Homo sapiens: one gene and its partners. The protein of the gene in region 2 interacts with the protein of the main gene of each other region in a biochemical or structural test. Each region holds a gene or a part of one and is shown on either strand. Other genes may lie near its edges.

Region 1 (7,027 bases), on a different chromosome or scaffold from region 2:
GATTAGATTATTAGATTAACTACAGAAGTTTTATCCGCCTGACTGACAAATCAGGTAGTAGTGGTCCATTTTAGTGGGCCTCTAAAGCAAGTCAGCATGCTTCTGTTGTTGAGTTCCACGAAGGCAGAGACAGTGTTGTCTTTTTTGATCATTGCTGTCTTGCTAAAGCCTGGCACAATGCTTTGTGCTTAGTAGATACTTAACAGATATGTTTATGTTGGAACTACAGAAGCAGTCCATCTCAGCTCTGGTATTTTTAACAAAACGTCGTGCATGTTAAAAAACAAACAAAAAACTTATCAGTGGAAATAACAAGGATAAGAATTAAATTACCTGGAATATTTAATGGGTTGCTTTTCCCTTGTTATGTCTTGGATCAGCTATGTAAAAATTATACAGTAACATCATAGGTTCTAAGGAGTAGAATAGCTGTATAACAGTTTTTAAAATCAGAGCAAACAGTAAGTAGTTAAGCTATTAAAAAACTCCCAAAAATATGCCCTCTACTATTGAGTGTTGGTTTTTCTATTTTGAACCCAATCGTATTATTGGCTTCATAAGATATTCCTCTTATTATCAGTAAATGCGGAAATAATGTTGGGAATATTATGAGTGGGAGATTTGTTTGTTTTTGTTTGGGTATTCTTTAACCTGTATTAAAATAGAAAAGGGCTTTTGAAATATTTATCGGTAGAGAAAATTTTATTTTTAATTCATTATAGTAAGTCAGTGCAGGGATATATAAAGAAAAGTTAATAATTTCTCTATTCCCTGTTTCTCCTGTCCATGTATTTTTCACAATTTGGTGTGTATTCCATATTATATGAATATAGGGTTGAGTGTGTGTGTGTGTGTGTGTGTGTTTGAAAGTGGGGTATGCTGTTGCATAAAACTCTGCAACATGTGTTTTTTCACTTAACAAAATCATGGATGTATTTCCAGGTTAATGCATATCAATCAAAATGGTTTCTAAACTACATGGATATTATTTTGTATTATAGATGTACTTTATTCAGTCATTTCTTTGCTGATTATTTCCAGTTTTTTGCTGTAAAAATGGTGCATTAAATGCACTAATACCTGTAGCCTTATGGGCTGAAGCTTTTGTATATGTAGGATACTTTCTGGGCCAAAGGATGATTTGGATTATTGTTAAGATTTTTAAACATACTGATTACTTTCCAAAATGTTGGCACATTTCCACAAGCAGTATGTATGAAAGTGTATACCTTCACATCTGTACCTACATGTTTCAAAACTAGTCGTTTATATGTCTGTGTAATCTTAGAAAGGTGTCTGATTCAGTAAATAGAAACCATGCATTCTATTTTTGTCACAACAATAATTAGTGTTTAATATTTGTTCAGTAACCACTTAGATCTAAATGTACTGACATGAAAATGTGTCTATCATTTTGTTGAGTAAAAGAAATATGCAGAATTTTACAAGATGGCGTACCCCATTTTAAAATACATTTTTCACCTTAACAGTGGTGAAAATGGTGGTGAAAAATGGTATATTTTCACAGTGGTGAAATGGTATGTTTCCCCAGTGGTGAAAACTGGTATGTTTCATGTTCAGGAGATGAGGTTGAGAAATCCTTTATTAAAGCAATATTAAGCATATTAATATTTTTAAGGAGTCAGTTGAATACATGGCACAGTTGTTAGTGTTTACTATGCATTTAGTAAATATTTCTCTTGGCAGCAAGGGTAGTTTATAGCTAAATTTTACATGCACTAATATCCTTCCTCTTTCTCTGATTTTTATTTTATCAGTCTACCTGTACATACCTGAAATAAGCTAATAATACCTTAGAGAAAATCATGGTCTTTGGAATCAGGCCTGGGTTCAAGTTCTAGGTCTACCATTTACAAACTTTATAACATTGGCCAAATGAGTGAATTTCTCCAAACCTCAGTTTCTTTAATTTTTTGCATGGACATAATGATAATGACTCTGCAGAGTTGTGAGAATTAAGTAAGAATTATAAAAAGTAGTATAGATCATTACATGGTTTACTCTCAAGTGTTCTCAAGAAACTTTTTCTAAGTAAATGAATTATAGTATTATAAGTTAGTATTACTAGTATTACCAGTCATTTATATCTATAAATTCTGACTGCAGTGCATCCTCTGAATGTAATTCATGTATCTTATTCAGAATATTAAATTATAATTAAGCGAGTGAATACTGCAGAGCTACATGGTACAGCTGATAACCATGTGGAGGAGGCACGACGGTGGAGAGGGCAGGATGGTGTGGTGGTTAAGAGGGGATCTCTGTAGTTAAAACAGTCCTAGGTTCAGTACAGACTTGGCTGTGTGACCTGGGCATGTTACCTCTTGAGTCTGTGTCCTCATCTGTAAAATGAGGATAATAATTAACTATGTTATAGGATAGTAGTAAGGATTAAATGAAATTGTATGTAAAATATTTAGCACATTGCCCGGCATATGTCAAGTACCCAATAAATAGTAACTCACAATTGTATTTCTTATTAGTTTGCAAATTGTTGATTATGTGTTAAATGCCTGTTGTCTAAATATGTGGTACTTTTTTTCCTTTAAAGGCAATAAAGATCTTTTACTTACATATGAACTTGATTCGAATACTTTCTGTAAAATGTGGAATAAAGTGAATTTTAATTGTCCCGGTAGTTGTATACAAGTTATAGAATATTACCAGGATTTTTTTTTTCATTTATGGGGATTGTAATGTTAAGTGGGCTCATGTTTTCAGAGTTTGAACCAGACCAGCATTTCCTGTCCTTTTTTTTAGACTCAAGAGTTCTCTAAGTAAAGCAAAAGTACTGTTAAATAATAGGGGAAGAATTTTTTCCCTTCCAAAGTTAGGTAAAAATATATTCCTCACCTTAACAATAGTATGTTTCATGTTCAAGAAATGAGACTGAGAAATCTTTTGTTAAAGCAACATTAAGCCTATTTAGTATTGAATATAATTCTACTGCAAATACTTTTGACTGAAATGTATTAATATCAGTCAACTATGGGAATATATTTAAATCTAGACAGTATCTTCTTAGAATAAGAAAGGGAAGACCTGTTGTGAGTGTTGGTGGCTACAGTGTTAAATGTTTTCTGCCTTTGTTTACTGAAATTAGTAAGTTTGAGTAGTTTTCCTTTAATTCTGCTTTTATGGTTTTTATTTGTAATTTTTAAAGAAACGAGCAAGAAAAATGTGTGGTGTGGTGAGACAGAGCCCTGGTATTAAATCCGAAATAGTGATCATTTCTTTTATTTGGAAATAGTTTCTACTATATGAATGTTTGTAATTTTAAGATACATTTTCAAAATTAGTTATCTCACATTTAATGAATGTATGATAATTAGCAGGTACACAAATTAGTACAACTAAAATTGGGTCACAATTTTATGATAGTCTTTAAAGCATTTGAAGTAGAAATTTGGGATTGTTAGAAGTCATAGCTTTAACATAAAATAGAAGGAGCAAAGTATGTACAGCTACAACCTTTAGTTAGAAGAGGGAAAGAAATTAGGAAAATCAAGGGAGAAGAGCACAGAAGAGACAGTAATTTGAAGGTGACTAAGTGATTACTTTTACCCAGGTTTGAATGGGGAAAGAATTTAGAAGAATTAAAAATTGATTAGAAGAGTCGGAAGAATTCAAGTTAAGAAGTTAATAATCTTTAAATATTTTTAATGTAAGAGATTACTTTTCCCCCTTGTGTTTGGCATCTGGTTCAGAGATCAGGTAAATAATCCAGACCAGTTTTAGTCTCAGGACCAAGTTCATTCTTAAAAGTTTTGAGTTCCTAGTGCCTGGAAAAGGGAATAAAGTTGTTGTGATGTTCAGAATCAGTTAATCTAACTAGAAAAACTCCCTTTCCTGAAAGAACTGGTTAAGGGAGTTTTCTGTGATGCAGGAGACTGATTATAAATGTGTTAGAACATGCCAAACTGGAATGGGTAACAAGGCTTCTACTTTCACTAAATGTAATACAGATAGCTAAGTGAGAAGACTGTAGTGTGTGGAAGTGATTAATACTTTACTGTAATTAACAACTTCCTCTTCCCTTATAATAATACACTTGTTTTAAATATATATTCTTTCTACGGGTTCAATGTTGTTATATAGAACTTTTGCTTGAAATATGGTATATAGTAAGGTGATAATTTCAGTAAATAAATTTCTCCAGTCATATTAAATGTCTGGCTTGTGTAATGTGACATTGACAGAAACACTAAAAGCCAGGCTTAAAAATACTGTAAGTCAGATTTTTTTAAATGGGTGAAATCTTTATATGTATAAATAATTTTTGTCTTAAGCTGAAAGCTGGTTTGAGAATAAACTTTATTGAAAGTTATTACCAGTTTTACAGTTCAGCCCCTTGTTTCTCTCTAGGACCTAGCACGTGTCTTACACATTCAGATAATTCATTTGAATAAATTGGAAAGTTTTTTGTTTTCTTTTTAAGTAGAAGAGAAATTAGAATTCTTTAGGTTAAGTCTATTTGAGGGTAAGAAATGGGCTGTGATCTTTTGAAATATCTTCTAATACACAAGCTTTCAAATTTTGCAACCATAAGTACAATTTTATGACATTATTTCTTTCAGTCCCTAGAATAGTGTATGGGAAGCACTTACTATGTTGTTAATCTGGCTGGGCACAGTGGCTCATGCCTGTAATCCTAGCACTTTGGGAGACTGAGATGGGAGGGACGCTTAAGGCCAGGAGTTCAAGACCCAAGACCAGCCTGGTCTTCAAAAAATGTGTGTGTGTGTGTGTGTGTGTGTGTGTGTGTGTGAGTGATAATCTGCAAGTCCTGTATTAGGTTGAGCTATATGAAAATGCCAATAAACTTTGACTTGAAAAATCTATAGGAAGAACAGTTTCATGTGATTCAGTCTAGTTCCAACATTGATTTGGAAATCATACGATTGCTCTTTGCGCTGCTAACTGTTGATTTAAAGTAGAGTAAAAACGTTGTTTTGTGTTTATAAATTAAGTGGTTCCTTTATATACCATTCTGTTTAATATCAGAGTTCTGAACAAGTAGATCATTAGTAACTTACTTGATCAGTTAACAGGGAAGGGGACTTTAAGGGGAGAAGAGACTATAGTGATGTTTAACTTAAATTTATAAAGATTTTTTTGTTTGACAATTTTCAGATTAATACTTATTGGATTTTTTTTAAATTATACTTTTAAGTTCTAGTGGATATTAAGTGAAATATTGGAGTTGTGGTATAAATGGTTTCTTATATTTCTGTGGATAGCACATGAGAATGTGTAAGCATCATTCATCCAAGAGAATTTGTGTATTTGATCAGTTTGTGAAATGCAGTTTTATTTTGACTTACTGTAACCAACATTTGTTTGTATTCAGTGTCCTTTTCTACCTTTAAAGGATATCAGTCATCCGTTTGAATTACTTGTATATGCTTTCCTTCTGAAGTAACAGAGATTTCTTTGTTTTTAGTGCCACCATGGCAACTGCACCATACAACTACTCTTACATCTTTAAATATATTATTATTGGTAAGTTTATTTAACTTACACTCTTGTTCCCAAAAGAAGGTTAACATACAAAATATTTATATGTTAATACTTAAACAGTACCACTTCAGGACTGAGTGATTTTCTTACTGTAAAACTAAAACTCCTTTTATAAGATTTATTTTTGCATTAGCAATGCAGCTTTTGCATTGTGGCCATGGATATTTCTGTGGTACAGTGCTGGTGGGTACCTTGTGAAGTGATGTTCATTGTTCTTGAGGGCTGCTTGAAAGCTTTTTGATGCTAGGAAGTATCAGTGTTTCAAGGAGTGCAGAAACATTCCTAAAATACTGTGAAAGCTCTCAGATTCCCCTGGGTTTCTGTTATAAGGAAAAATTGGTAGAGAATATTGTTTGATTCCAAATCAATTGTGTAATATATATAAAATATAGTATTTTTCTTAATTGGTGTTTTTTTCCTTAAGTTTCAAGAAGGTTTTGCTCAAATTAAGTCTTAATGCTATTTATCCAAACATAAAACTACATTTGAAAGTACACGTTTTTCAATGAATTGTTCACATTAGAACAGTTTGCTTTCATGTTGAACTTAATGTGTCCTTTCTAATGTTTCCTTCATCAAGGGTTAACATTGCTATAGTACAGTCAGAGATGACATCTTTTCTCCTGGGGTTTTCATGTAATGCAAATTCTTTTCTTTCATAGAATAATACAAGAAGTATAAGACAGGGACCTAGTGAATCAAGCTTCCAGAACTCAGTTTGTTATTTCTGCTTGTTACATGCTACCCCATTTGTCAGTTTTTGAAATTTGTTGCTTTTATGCATGAGTTTAAGGAAAAAAACAAAAGAAAACAAAAACATAAAATTTTGAAACAGCTCAAAGTAAAAAAAATTCCATTAAAAAAATAAGCACTTCCCAGCTGGTGGCTATTTATTAACAGTAATAATTTACAGCCAAATTCTGTCACTGCTAAAGATTGGGAATAATATTCCATTTGTGTCTCACAGTGAAAACTTTTGAATCATTATAAAGTAGGAAAATAAAAATTTGTTAAGTGTCCCAGAAACTTGTGATATGTTATATGGTAAGGAATATAGCGATCATTGCATAAAATTGAGAAATGTAATTGCCACCTGAAACTTCTTTTTTTTTAAACAGGGGACATGGGAGTAGGAAAATCTTGCTTGCTTCATCAATTTACAGAAAAAAAATGTAAGTTCAATACATGAGGTAAACATTAATAGTTTTCTTTATCGCCATGTTTCTACTTTTTAGAAAGTGTCATTTTCAGTATACTTCATGCATTTAAATATAACCTTTCCCTATATTTGTACTTTTTTTAAATGGGTACAGATAAAATGAAATATGCCAGCATATTTTAGGGTTGATTTTTATACACATTATATAATCTGATTTGCTTGTTTTGATTTCTTGATGTTAAAATAATTTTTAAAAATACATAAAATAATGTCAAACTTAATCTTTTTATTCTCTGACTTTCTGTTACAGGAATTGATTGTCTTATT
Region 2 (7,965 bases):
CTACGTGTTACCCACTAAATTACAATAAAAGAGTAGGGCTAAGAATAAGCATAAAAATTCTGAGTGTAATTATTCATTTCAGAATATAAAGATTAGAAATAATTGGTATACAGCAAAACAATGGAATTCAGAATTTGGTAGTTGTCAAACAGAAAAGAGTGACAAATCCTGAATGCCAACTCTGCCTTATCCCTAGGAAACACTTTGATTTGTTCAAGGAAGGTTAAAGGTCAAACAGGTTTTGTCATAATCTATTATCCTTGAAAAATATGAATCTTAAGTGTTTGATTCCCTGTTTCCAAAAAAACCCTGATTTTTAATTGTAATTTTGGTCAAGCAAATTTCCTATGGTTGACAGTAGGAACCACAGACCTAAAGATTTAAGTCAGGCTTCAAGTTCTAGGATAAAAAAGCCAAAAGTAAAAAGTTCTGGACACTCGAGTCAGAAAAGACACCAGAGAGACAAGAATATGAGGATTACAGATGGTATTATGGTATTAGGTGTCTCCAGCAAATGCTTTCAAGAGAAACTTCTCAGTGTAATTCTGAGACATGTTACATAGGATCAGATCTCAGGTATTCTACTCCCTAATTGCAAACAAGTGACTTAACCTGTCTGTGCTTCAATTTCTGTATCTATAAAAGGGGGATGATGATATTACTATCTTATAGTAACCCTCACATGTGGATTAAATGAACTAACTAATGAAAAGGGCTTAGAACAGTACCTGGCACATAAGCAGCCATTGAATGTTAGTTATATAGCAACAACTATATTAGTTGTTAGTTATATGTTAGTTTATATATAAACTATAGTTTATATGTATTTAAAACTATAGTTTATATATATTTAAAACTATTTACATAGTTTATATATAAACTGCTAATATAGCAACAACTATATTAGTTGTTAGTTATATAGTTGTTATATAGTGTTACCTATATATTAATGTTAGTTATATAGCAGCCCCATACCCCCACATATACCCCCAACTATACCCCCATAACTTACACAGAATTGGAACACACGACTTCCTTATTAGCTCAACAGAGTTCCAAATCTACTAATCCGAGGGACTAGATTCTGGGCTGTGGTCATCTCAACAATGTAGCTACTCTATTCAATCTTCATGATTTTGTTTTTACATTAGAGGAAACCAAGGCACACAAGTTTTACTGGTTTGCCCAAGGGTCACCTCTCTGTAACCCACTCTAGCCTTTGGAAATGTTAGTGGTGTTCCACTTTTCTGCTGAATTTTGTTTTATTAAATTCTGAATTTAGTTTAGTTTCATTAAACTAGTCTTCCAGGGTTTGATGAAATCCGGGTTTGATGAACTTCCCAGTAGAGCTGACTAAGCAGGACCTATGAAAGAGCTACTTCACAGAATTAGCTGACATCCAGTTAGAGTGGCACCAATAGTCTCAGAGAAGAGCAGGTTGGGCCAGTGGGAATTTCTTCCGTGTAAATCTGACAGCATAGATACAGAGGATCTAAAAGTGGGGACTGAGAAAATTGGTTTTAGGCAGAAGCCAATGTTGGGAGATGGCAAGATTTAAGTGAACAATTTTTAAACTGGGAAGGAATATGATGTCAAGAAGCCAATGAATATCCAAGTGAGGTGTCTTGGGCACACAGGGATAGGGGCCTATGATACGTAATGGTCACCATGGATATTTTTGAGATAAGATATTAGTGACAATAGAGTGAGGTTAGCAGCTATGGTGATAGCTTATCAAAATAATCTTTTGATCAATCAGTCAACAGTATTTACGGAGCTCCTATGGCAGAGAGGAAGGTGACACACTGATAAAATACTGTCATTTCTATCTCTACACATTTCATTACCTTTTCTTTCTAACAGTAAAGTCAGTAAGTGAGGCAGTTTCTGGCCTACACTAAACCATTACTGAATTAATGAATATGCCTTCAACCCAGTGGGATAAGGGGACGGGGAGACTGGAGAAACCAGCTGAATAGGGTTAAGACAAGTCTGTAACGTTAACAATGAAGCATTTCCATAGCACTTTTACTTTTTGGAAGCCACTCTCGCATTTATTTTTCCCCCAGTTATAATTCCAAAGGCTGTAAGGTAAGGCAGTTAATGGTTTTATTAAACTGAAGAGTTAACTTTGGCCCAGAAAGCTTTATTGACTTGCCCAACGTTACACAACACATGTCAGTTGCAGGGGCAGGAACTAAGAACCCAGGCTTCCTGCTTCCCCGCCCATTCAGTCCTTCCACTGAGCCACACTGCCAAGCACAATCCAGAGGCTTGGAAGTTGGGGACAAAGCCCCGAGGTTAGAGAGCACTGGCACTTCACACCTGGACCTGAACCTGTTGCCCGCGTGGCTTCAGTAGGAGGACAGTGGGTGACCCGTCGCGGTTTGGGGTTGGGAGGTAATGGCAGGCTCCCCTCCTCTGTGGGAATCAGGTGGTTACTTACTCATATTGCCCGTTCCTCTGGGCTAGGGTCAGGGCGCAGGGCTCCCGGAGAGGACCCTTCATCTCCATACCCTCGACAGTATGCGGGCGCTAGTCAAGGGTCTCCTTCGGAAGCGCGGTGGGGAGGAGTGGTGCACTGCGGGGCGAAGGGGGTCTTCCACCCCCCCCCCACCGCCGCCCTCCCCCGCCCCGCCCCGCCCTGCTTCGTCTCCCGCGCCGGCCCCCTCCCCCTCTCTGCTCGGCCTCTGGGCCACCCGGTTGCCCCGCCCCACCGTGTTCCGCAGGGCCCCCGACCCCCACCCCCGGCCCTGCGCGGCCTCCCCTCTCCCTTCTCTCCGGCGGATACGGCAAGCGGCTGGGCTCCGACCGGGAGCGGCGGCTCCATCCAGGCGGCCTCCGGGCTCAGCAGGACAGCGGACTGCGGGCCGATCCGACGACACTGGCTCCCGCGTCCCCACACCCACCCACCTCGGCTGCGTGTCGTTTGAGGAACAGCTCCGCGCCGGGCGCCGGGCGCCGGGAGCCGGGAGCGGGGAGCTGGGAGCTGAGAATCTGACCCAAGAGAGAGCGGCGCCTCGCGCCCCCGCCAGTTTTCCAGGCCGCCGCAGATTCCGTCCCCTGCGGTCAAACTGCGGAACTGCAGCGAGAGACCTGACGGACTGGGGGCGTCTCTACCAGGTCCAGCAAGGAATGGGTTTTAAATGCCACCTGTGACATCAAAATTGTTCTGAGGACTTTGAAGGCCACAGAAACAAAACACAGTCATACCTATGGGAGATCTCAAACCTGTTGTGTCAATACGACCCACATCATTCAGTAAAAAAATACATATATATATATATATATATTTCTTAAGGTTATAATGTCCCGTGTTGGTTATCCTACCATTTCCTTTCCTCTTCTTTCTTCCACGCCCTAAATCGGAGAATTCCCCAAAGCCCAGACCTTTGCTCCTCCTCTGCGTCCCCTCCAGTTCACCTCTAACTAGACAATGTCCAAATATATATCCCTGGCCCAGACCTCTTACCTAATAGAGTCCATTGTTAACACATCACTGCGTCACAAAACTAACTCATTATCATTTCACTGGAAAGCCATATATCGTCTTCCCCCTCCTCATCTCTATATCCAATCAGTCAACACACCCTGTTAATATTTTACGTGGAATTACTTTTAGATTCCTTATTTTCTCTCCATTCACACTGCCATAACTTTATTGTAAGCCCTTGTGATAGCCTATCTGGGTTATTGCACTTTTCTTTAAATAAATCCTGTTGGGTTTACTCTTTCCTTTGACATGTTTACTCTGTTGACAGCCATAAAAATATTTTTCCCAAAGTAATTTTTCGATCGTGTTATTCATTTGCTCCAGAATCTATAATACACTAGATATCAAGAGTGACTGTAAATCTGTAGTAATTAAAAGTATGCTGTGGAGATAGACAATCAATGAAACACAATATAAACCCCTCAAACAGACCACACATATACGGAAGGTTGATATGCAGCGTGTGGGACATTTCAAATCAGTGGGGAAAGAATGGATTATCCACTAAGTGGTACTAGGACTACTGCTTATCCATATGGAAAATTATAAAAATTAGACCCCTACCTCAAACCATGGAAGAAAAATCAGTTCCAGGTGGATTAAAGATCTAAATGTGAAAAGCAAAACTTTATAACTTTCAGAAAAAAAAATTGAGTATGAGCTTGGAATATGGAATGAGAATAAGACATTTAGCTACATGAAATTTCAAAATGTATGTACTTTAAGACAATATAAACAAGTTAAAAGACAAACTGGCCTGCACAGTGGCTCATGCCTGTAATCCCAGCACTTTGGGAGGCCGAGGTGGTAGGATCACTTGAGCCCAGGAGTTCAAGACCAGCCTGGGAAACGTGGCAAAACCCTGTCTCTACAAAAACTATAAAAATTAGCTGGATGTGGTGGCAAGTGCTTGCAGTCCCAGCTACTCAGGAGGCTGAGGTGGGAGCATCCCCTTGAGCCAGCGAGGTCACATCTACAGTGAGCTGTGATGGCGCCACTGCACTCCAGCCTGGGTGACAGAGCAAGACCTTGTCTCAAAAAAAAAAAAAAAAAAAAAAGACAAGCTGTCATCACCTTTCGGACATCTCCCACCATTTCCCACCACTCTCCCTAACTAGCTTTGCTTAGTCACACTGACTCCTTGTTGTTGCTAGGACTTGCCAGGCACACTCTTACCTCAGGGCCTTTACACTTGCTGTTCACTCTGCATGCACTCTCACCTCCTTCAGGTCTTTGCTCAAATGTCACTTTCTCACTGAAGCCTTCCTAGACCACTTTATTGAAAATTGTAATTCAACAATCCCCTTCTCCATCACCACACATACATGTTCCCTATCCCTCTTCCCTGCTTATGTATCACTATCTACCACTTCTGTTTTATTTATCAATATTATTGGTCATTTACCTTCACCCGCTAGAATGTTGAGTTCCATGAGTGCAAGGATTTTGTCTGTTTTGATCATAGCTGCATTCTCAGTGCCTAGAACCATTCTTGGAGCCAAGTAGGTGCTAGAAAAATATTGATTAAATGAATGAATGACTTGGTATCCAGGATATATAAGAACTCCTATAAATAAGAAAGAAACCTAATAGAAAAATTGACAAAATATCTGAGTAAGTAATTCATAGTCAAGGAAACCCAGATGGCCAATAAAGACATGAAAAGATGCCTAACTTTATTACTATTCAGGGAAATTGAAAAGTAAAACCACGAGATACCATTTCACAACCATCGGTTTTGTGAAAATTTAAAAAGTCAGACAACCCCAAGTGTTGTTGAAGTTCTAGCAGTGGAACTCTGATTTACGGCTAGAAGGAGTTTAAGTTGGTAGAACTGCTATGAAGAACAATTTGACGATGTCTAATAAAGGCAATACCCCTCAATCTAGAAATTCTATTTCTAGATATAGACACTGGCAAAACTCTACCTTTTATATGCACAAAGAGACATATAAAAGAATGTTCATTGCAGTATTATTTGTAATCTCAAAAATGGAAGCCAAGTAAATGTCAGCAGGTGAATGAATAAATAATGGTGTTCTCGATGAATGAATTTGAGCTATGGGTAGTAACAGCTAAATTTCAAAAATATAATGTTGAGTGAAAAGCAAATTGCAAAACATGTACAGTATACTGTGTATATAAAGTCTGAAAATATCATCTATTGCTTATGGCTACATAGATGAGTAGTACTGTAATAGTATATAAAACATGAAAGGGCATGATCACCAAATTTAAGAGAGGGAGAGGATTGACACTCGGGGGAGGCATACAGAGAATATCAAATATATCTAATATTTATTTCTCAAAACAGAATCTGAAAAGTGATGTTGCAAGATTTGATAGAACTGGGTGGTGGGTACATATATTGGTTCTGTTATTCCATGTACTTTCCTGCACTGAAAATCATTTGCAGTCAATGAAAACGAAAGATAAAGAAGGAATATGCAGGGGAGGTTAGCAGTATCAAATGCTGAAAATAGGACAAGAAAATGAGGGCCAAAGAGACTTTCTTTGGACGTGTCAAGGAGTTCACTGGAGACCAATAATTGTTTGGTTTCAATAAGTGGTGAGGATAGAAACAAGATTATGGGGAATTGAGGAGGAACTGTATTGTGAGAAAACGGAGACAAGAGACCACAGATTGAAGAGGTTTGGAAATAAAAAGGAACGAAGTACAATTTTAATTAAATTAGTTAGAAGGGTCAAACAGAGGTTGTTGACAAAGCCTGAAGCCACTTTAAAGCAAAGAGGAAGGAACCAACAAAGAGGGGGCCTTTTTTTTTTTTTTTTTTTTGAGACGGAGTCTCGCTCTGTCGCCCAGGTCGGACTGCGGACTGCAGTAGCGCAATCTCGGCTCACTGCAAGCTCCACTTCCTGGGTTCACGCCATTCTCCTGCCTCAGCCTCCCGAGTAGCTGGGACTACAGGCGCCCGCCACCGCGCCCGGCTAATTTTTTGTATTTTTAGTAGAGACGGGGTTTCACCTTGTTAGCCAGGATGGTCTCGATCTCCTGACCTCATGATCCACCCGCCTCGGCCTCCCAAAGTGCTGGGATTACAGGCGTGAGCCACCGCGCCCGGCCAGAGGGGGCCTTTTAAGATGCTAGAAGAGAGAGGCAGTAAGGTTGCAAGCAAAATCCCTCAGTAATTGAGAGGGACAAAGATCCAAGATGTAGATGGCGGAATCGGCCTTAGGGAAAAGGCGAGATACTTCTTCCTCCAACTTTACAGTATCCTCAGCACCTAAACAGTGCATTGCACATAGTGGGCACTCAATAAATATTTGTTAAGTGAAGAATAAGAGGTTGTGTGGAAATTAAAATATATTGAGGTAAGGACACTAAAAACTGAGGTCTCTCACAGGGGAAATGATGGTTGCATATAAGTGGCTTCCAATGCAAAGAGTTAAAAGACAATTGAATAAAATTCAAATAAATGAAACTCTGGCTTCAAGAAAACATGAATCTCACCACCTTTACCACCACCATCTGCACATGCGTGCGTGTACACACATACACAAACACACACAAATTCAGTGGGTGCTCAGTGCCTGTCTTTTATCTATTAGGCAACTATCACTAAGTGTCTAGAACTTACAGGCTTTTCAGAAACAAAATTAAAAAAAACAGGATCTTTAAAAAAGACTAGAGCCGAGCACAGTGGTTCACAACTACAATCCCAGCACTTTGGGAGGCCAAAGCAGAAGGACCATTTGAAGTTTGAGATCAGCCTGGGCAATCTAACGAGACCCCCATCTCTACAAAAATAAAATAAAATAAAATTAGCTGGGCATGGTGGTATGTGCCTACAGTCCCAGTTACTCGGGAGGCTGAGGCAGGAGGATCACTTGAGCCCAGGAGTTCAAGGCTGCAGTGAGCTATGATTGTGCCACAGCACTCCAGCCTGGGCGACAGAAGGAGACTCTGTCTCTAAAAAAATTTGTTTTTAAGTAAAGGCTACAAAATACTAAAATGACAAATTCAAAAATAATAATTAAATGGCATACAAAATAGAACAGTATATCAAGTTCATTAACAGTTAAATTTATTATGCATTTAAAAACCCATTATATTTGAAGACGATTTTTAGGTTGGATCTTCTCACTTCCCAAGAATTCCCACGTACATGTAATTCTTATGGAGAAATCACAGCCATGTAAATTAAATTAGTTATGCACAGACAAATAATTTCAAAAGCAAAATTACCAAAGCATTTTCAAAAATTTATAGCAAAAATATAAATGTTTAATGCAGGATGTGGATGCATTTTAATATGTTTATTATGATGTTGGCTGAAGTCTCCACAAGTGACAGTGTTTAGGGCCTGCGAAGGCAAAAACAGGCCTGCCTAACATAGATGAGGCTGGGAAGGAAGATTTTGTATAGGTGAGTCAGCAGCCAGAGGCTGGAAGGCAGGCCAAGTGGAGGCATAAATGATTCATTTATTTTTAAATCCCCACTAGTTGAAAAG
Region 3 (7,027 bases), on a different chromosome or scaffold from region 2:
TCGATTTCCAGGCATTCTTCCCTTATTAAGTATTCGTGTAATATTAATAGTCATGAATATCTGCTATTAGGAGGCTCCAGGAACGCTGCCCAGCGCGGTTATTAGAAGCTCAAGCGAAGCCGCCGCTAAGAAAAGAGGGGGAGACACGGATTAAGGAACACGCACGCACCCACACACTCACACATACTTTTTCCTTTTTCCTTTTTTGGGGTTTTTCATTTTTAAAGAACTTTGAATCATAACCAGTCGCGGCAGGATAGAGACCGTGGGTTCGACCAGCTGAAGGCGCCGCGCGAATCGGTGGTTCAAGTTCGGATGGATCCGAGCCGGGCTCCCGCGCTCCGGGGAGCGTCGGCGCCGTGACTGGAGTCCTGGGTGGCGCGGGGCTCTCGGCGCCTTTTGTGTGGGGCGCGCTCGGGCGGCGGGGCAGCCGGGCGCTCCAGGCTTGCTTGTTTTTTTCCACCCTGACTCGTTACCCCAGACTCTTCGCAGATGTTAGTTCACAGTTTTTCAGCCATGGTGAGTCCCATCCCCACCCCCGTTGCTGTTTCTTTAGGAATTGGATTCTGGAAACCTGGTGCCGTGGAGCTGCCCGAAACCTCGGGTTTCACGCCCAGCTTTCCTTCAGGACACCCTCTCCATTTGCATCCCCCACCCCACCTTCCGCCTTTCTCTCGCTCTTTTCCATCCCTAAATCGAGTGCATTACCCCCTACCCCAGCCCCCGCTCGACCTCTCCGAGCACGCAGACCTACCTCGCCGCGGCTTCCCAAGGCGTGTTTCTCCCCACGTTCATCTTGATTTCCTTGAGTCTTCACTTGTCCCCGAGATGTTCTCAACATTTGATGCTTAAACTGTCTGCAGGAAAAGTGCAGCGCGGTGTGCCCCCTACCCTCGGGACCTGCGGCCGAACCGCCGAGGGTTCGCGGTCTCTGGAATCAACTCTCTTCGCTTGTTTTGCAAGGGAATTGCAATAGAGAAACCTAAAGTCAGGCGTTTCTTCTGCCCTTTGGGGCTGGGGTGGAAGGGGCGGGGGGGGGGGGCCACAGCCCCGGGGTGCACCTCTCTCTTTTAAACCCAATAAGGCTGAATCTTTCTATTTTAAACCTTGACTTGACGTCCCCCTTTCCCTATCCAAACCATAAATCGACTCTGTCGAGAAAAAGGCTCCTAACAGAGGAAGCGAAAAAGACAGACCCCGATCCTGCAGTTAAAACCTTCTTTAAGCTGGTAATTTAAACGTGTGTTTTTGTTACAGCCCCTCTGCGAAATATGTTTCTATTTAAGTAGTCATGAAACGGTAACAGTCTTTGAACGTTTATGATTTTTTTCTCTCCAAATAAATGGAAGAGAATAAACAATAACGCAGTGGCAGACAGGTTCAAATCGGGGGAAAAGAAAAGGCCGCTTCTGCTGTTTAGTATTTAGGAGGAATTTTAATTTTGCTTAAGAGAGATTTCACGCTGCAGTTTAATGGGCTGTGTTCCAGGAGACCCTTTTCTATCTTTTCCTCTCTTTGAAAGAAACCCCTAAATAGTCTCTTGTGCCCCCTCCATATACAGTTTCTCTGCGTTGTTCGGTCTGTTTCACTTGAGGGTATTTCCTGAAAAGAACTTAGAGCTGATTTTTTCCCGGCGGCCAGCCAACGGGAACGGGCGATTTCCCACGCAGACTTGTCAAGTGGATTTTGTGTGGATAGTTGTAGCTCGACGCCTGATTCCTTGTTCTTTACCTTTCCTCTCGCTCTCTTCTAGGACCGTCACGACGGCACCAGCAACGGGACGGCACGGTTGCCCCAGCTGGGCACTGTAGGTCAATCTCCCTACACGAGCGCCCCGCCGCTGTCCCACACCCCCAATGCCGACTTCCAGCCCCCATACTTCCCCCCACCCTACCAGCCTATCTACCCCCAGTCGCAAGATCCTTACTCCCACGTCAACGACCCCTACAGCCTGAACCCCCTGCACGCCCAGCCGCAGCCGCAGCACCCAGGCTGGCCCGGCCAGAGGCAGAGCCAGGAGTCTGGGCTCCTGCACACGCACCGGGGGCTGCCTCACCAGCTGTCGGGCCTGGATCCTCGCAGGGACTACAGGCGGCACGAGGACCTCCTGCACGGCCCACACGCGCTCAGCTCAGGACTCGGAGACCTCTCGATCCACTCCTTACCTCACGCCATCGAGGAGGTCCCGGTAAGAGGCCGCGCAACCAGCGCGGGAGGGAACACAGCCCCCTACTTACCTACCCCAGAAAGGATACCTGGAACATACAGTCGGTGGGCCCGGGTTCTCCCTAGTATTTCCTTATAAAAACATTTTATTCGGAGGCGGAGAGTGAGGGACGTTTTGAGGAACCACACAAAGTAGTTGCGAGTTCTACCCCAGAACAATGGTTTCTGGAGCTCCCTCAAACAATGCCTGCATTACCATTTCCACCAACACAGATAAATCAGACGAATGTCACCATTAACAATATCTTCCTCTCGACGACAGTAAACTGTCTCAATTGCTAAAAGATCTACTTCCATCGCTGAGTCTGGCGTGGAGATTTCTCCCTGTCCTGGGAATGATGTTAAATGCAACCAAAAGAGCTCATTAAATGTCCTCAAAATGTAAAAGGAAGTGTAAAAGACACACTAAGATCATTTTAACCGGATTTTATAAGCACAAGTGAAACCTAAAAGTTATGTGTACACCCTATCCTGATTAAAGAAAAACTAAGTAGCAAATCCAAGCAGAGGGACATTAAAATGCAGCCTTCTTCTTACTAGGGGTGCTAAGTGGTGACCTCATAAATCATTAGCTAGGTTCCCAACGCCTATCAGAACCTGCTACACTCCATATTAAATTAAATGTTTCGAGACTATTGGGTAATACATTATTTGAGTTCTAATTTAGTTATCAATAAATGCAGTTTAAAATGATTTCTAAATAAGCATGGCATTAGCACATTTACTATTTACAATGCAAACCAGGCTATTGATAATTTGAAAATACTTTCTGGAATTAAACTTAAACCAGTACCTCTGCTTCAATTCTATATATTTATGGTTTCCTCACAACCCTCCTGAAATGGAATTAGAGCAAGCCAATAATTTTATTAAAGCTGTAAAGGCTTCTGTTAAAGCTGCTTTTCTTTGGAGAGGAAATGTATCTGGATGTGATTTTTACTAAAATGCTATTTCAAATTACTGCATCAAATATTGCAGCAGTATGTCCGTTGACAGTTTAATGATTACTACATTAGATTGTAAGGAAAATGGTCAGATGAACTTACCTCCTTGCTTGGTGAATTTAAAACATTATTTAAGTTCCGTAGGAAAATAGAAAATTTATTACATCTCTCATTTGGCCCAGTTAGTCACTGAAATTTGTTGGTTATGTTTAGCAGCCCTTGCATGGAAGGCAGGAAAGTGGGCACTTGATCCAGTATAAGGTTTAGTGAGCACTGTATGTCTGTATATGTGTGTTCATACTTACATGTTTTTAGAAACTGATACTTAACAGTGCATTTTTTTGGAAGTGAGAGGAGCACTAATTTATATAAGAGCAATTTAAACATGAACTGGGAGTTATGATTATTTTAGTTCCCTTTCCCAAAGCACTCTGAATCTTTTCCTTGCTTGTTCTTTGAAAATATTTGAATTGCAAAATAATGTTGCAAGCTTTTGGAACTACTGTGAATGAGAATTGCTCTACTTTGCAAAAATTTCAAGGTGAATTCTTAACACCTGTATACTCACTCTTTGTGGCAAAATTGGTCAGTAGGAGAAACTAACTAAAAGATTAAACAAAAACAAGGAAACCCAGTTGCTGTTTTTCCCTCTCCCTCCCCCATCTTTTAAGAAAAAAATTCTTTCAAAGGAATTTGGGTCAAGAAAAAGGTTGTTTTCAATTTTTTCCCATTGCTGCAACAGTTAACCTTTAGTAAGTATAACTGCTAAATATTTAAGAAAATCAAATCGATGGTGAAAATTATTTAATCATTAATATCTCAGTGGGGTTTTAAACTTAACAGTCTTCCCTGTATGGACAAGGTCTAGAAATAACACAAATAAAAGTATTATGCCACACTACATTTACTTTATGGGTTTAGGGTGCATGCATAAAGGGATCATATTTCCCCATATAGTTAAAACACAAGAACTGCAGCAGTAGTCATTTCTGAACATTTCTCAATTTAATTATACTTAAATCCAGAAGCACTTTAGGCAAGTTACAAATGAGAGCATTGAGTATAATAAAACCTGTAATAAAGCAACTTAGTACCATCCACCCGGAATCATTGCGATCAGGCACAATTAACAGGAGCATAAATCCAAGACAGAATGGAAAATGTTCGAATCAGTATTATTGTTGGACAAAGACTAGAGAAGGAAGCAATAGTTTTTTAAATGGTAATGCCTGTGTTTGGTAATGATTGCAAAATCTTCTATCTCAGCAGCCCTGGTGCTAATTTGTAAACACAGCCAGACATTATATTGCCTGTCAGTTTCTGCATTAGAAAACATGACTTCATTTTACTTTCTAATCACGTTTTGACTCTAGTGCGCACACGTATACCCATCCATCTGTAAAAAAAAAAAAAAAAAAGAAAAGAAAAAGAAAAACACCCCACACTAACAACAAACCTGCTGTTGGACAACAGGAAAGCAAGCTCAAAGGTTTTTTGGTTTTGGTCATTTTCATATTCCTATCATACCCAGGCTTAGGCAGTAGTCTTTCTAAAAATTTATGTGGAGTTTTCCATAAAGGTGTGTGTGTTTGCTCTTTATTATACTACCTAAACCTTTTCTTTTCCAACACTCTCCTGTTACTCCCGCCCCTGTCATTTCTATTGTGTTTCCCTGGCTTTCGCTGCCTGAACACTGGAATTGCTAAAGTCAGAAGCCGCTGAGGCGCCAATCTAAAGCTAGGTACATTTCTAAATGTTGAACTGACTGAGAATGATTAGGTGCTCCAACACTTGATTTAATTTCCAAAGAAAGTTTTATTCCCCATCTCCACCCCTTTTAAACATGGATTATTTGCTGGAGGAGGAGAAATTGGCCATGGGTGTGCAGTGAAACCTCTTGAGTTGCAAAGCCCCAAATTCCAATAAGCCAAGATGAGATGTTTATATATAAATGTCATTATACGGGAGGGGGAATTTTGATTCTACACCTTCCCCTCCTCCCATCTTGCAGGGAATATTCATTTCCTTTTGTTTTGATGATACACTTACATCCATGTGTATCCTTTTGTTGCAGCATGTAGAAGACCCGGGTATTAACATCCCAGATCAAACTGTAATTAAGAAAGGTAAGCCATTTCCTTCTGCATTCCAAGCATGTCCTTACAGGCAGAGTGCTATTTAAAAGAACTTGCAGAGATGTGTTTATTTTTTCCAAATAGGATTTCCTAAAGGCTCAGAATTAGCAAATAGATAGGCACAGAACAGCAATGCTTAAATAATCAGCCTTCAGTATGTTGGTAATGCCAACAGGCTAGCTTTGTTCTGACTCATGATTTGACCATTTAATTTAGTTTAATGATATTTGGACAAACACACAAAATGTACAGTAGTTGAACTGATTTGGAAGTGGCATTTCAATTTTGAAACAGTTTGATAGTTTAATCCATTGCCTGGATGAAGGTTAAGAAGTGTATAATGCTAAAATAGTACAAATAATTTAACATTAATGTAAGAACAGATGATAAGAAGCACTCTTTAGTAGAGGAAAAAAACATTCATGTTCTTCAATTTAGTTTCTTGTTAGCTGTTTAAGGGTCTTAGAACTTTGTGAATTAGGTTAACAAAATTTTAGCTTTTGGTTAAAATTAGTATCTTGAAGATGGGAGGAATATTAGCATACTTGTTCAGAGGAGAAATTGTTAGAAAAGTGTCAAGTGATTTGCATGGATTTGTAATCTGTATTGTGTTTAGTGAGTAGAAATAAAGTTTACTGAATTAAATGCTATTCACTCTTGGTAGCAGCTTTTTTTTTGGTTATGGTGGCAATGTTACATTTCAGGATTCTAGGCACCACCAGAGGACGATGCTATATAAAACTGTTCTCATTTCTAACCCCAATCAGTATATTGTTAGCTAGTTTAAAGTTTCATTTTTGCATCTGTGAAGTCTTTGTCACGTCAAATTAGATGTGCAAGGGATAAATCTTAAGAGATGCTCTTTCCAAGTCGACATGATAATTGGCTCTTTTATTAGTAATCTCTCAAGAGTTCGTTTAACTCCTATTGTCTCTATTAGCCTCCCCAGAGCTATTAATGTCACAAGTGATCTATCCAAAACCTAGAGCCCCCCACCTCCCTATACCTCTAGCATATCCCCATTAAAGAACGCATAAGGAACACTGTGATGAGATTGTGTGCATATGATGTCTCCAAATGGAATTTTAAAATACAATGCATACTGTACTTAAATGGTTGTGAATGCATCTGAATTACACTGGTGCTGAGAAACGTAATGCATTAGTATACTTTCTGCAGGTCTTCTATTTTTTTTTTTTCTAACAGTGGTGAGTCCAGCAATAAAGAGCTTATGGTTTTAACTAGGAAGTATATATACCCACTTTCCCAATAAAGGCGCTTTAGCAGAGGACTGTTAAGTATTTACTTAACAAAAGGGCACATTGCTAGTATTCCACTGTAGGCCTGTTCTTCCCTCCCCACTCCGCAGTTCAAAACTGGCCTTGGAATGGATCTCCAAAACTGAGACGTTTTCAAAATTGAACATAGGAAAGGGCCTATTTATCAAAAAGACGGGACGTGTGGTGTGGACAACAAAATCCACCACTTCCCAGCGTGGTGCCTCAATTAAAACGCTCGTTTACAGGGTGCTTTAGCCATCTAAATTGTCGGCTGATTTTAATAATGGGTCTTTGAAGCAGTTTTTCCCCGACACTAAAACCCCACCCAGCAAAACCCCTGAAGTACAAGTAACTTGCTCTCGGTTTGCAAATGTAATTCCCTCCCCTGCACCCTGAACCCGTGGTCCTGGACCTCATCTGGGGCCCACTCCGCTCGGATGCT

Evidence for each region. Proteins that work in one complex are often made in the same cells at the same time.
Region 1: the proteins of OCRL (region 2) and RAB14 form a complex in vitro, tested with the Homo sapiens proteins (one study listed by BioGRID and IntAct).
Region 3: the proteins of OCRL (region 2) and TFAP2A form a complex in vitro, tested with the Homo sapiens proteins (one study listed by BioGRID).

What each region holds. Positions count from the first base shown.
Region 1 is NC_000009.12:121,191,857-121,198,883, reverse strand, and holds part of RAB14 (ras-related protein Rab-14), read left to right. Parts: intron 1-5,464; 5' UTR 5,465-5,471; coding exon 5,472-5,523; intron 5,524-6,659; coding exon 6,660-6,713; intron 6,714-7,027.
Region 2 is NC_000023.11:129,535,305-129,543,269, reverse strand, and holds the start of OCRL (inositol polyphosphate 5-phosphatase OCRL), read right to left. Parts: upstream 3,012-7,965; 5' UTR 2,831-3,011; coding exon 2,792-2,830; intron 2,530-2,791; coding exon of another isoform or gene 2,527-2,529; coding exon 2,447-2,526; intron 1-2,446. UniProt on the Homo sapiens protein: Catalyzes the hydrolysis of the 5-position phosphate of phosphatidylinositol 4,5-bisphosphate (PtdIns(4,5)P2) and phosphatidylinositol-3,4,5-bisphosphate (PtdIns(3,4,5)P3), with the greatest catalytic activity towards PtdIns(4,5)P2.
Region 3 is NC_000006.12:10,405,062-10,412,088, reverse strand, and holds part of TFAP2A (transcription factor AP-2-alpha), read left to right. Parts: exon of another isoform or gene 1-492; coding exon of another isoform or gene 493-519; intron 520-1,753; coding exon 1,754-2,188; intron 2,189-4,161; exon of another isoform or gene 4,162-5,244; coding exon 5,245-5,296; exon of another isoform or gene 5,297-7,027.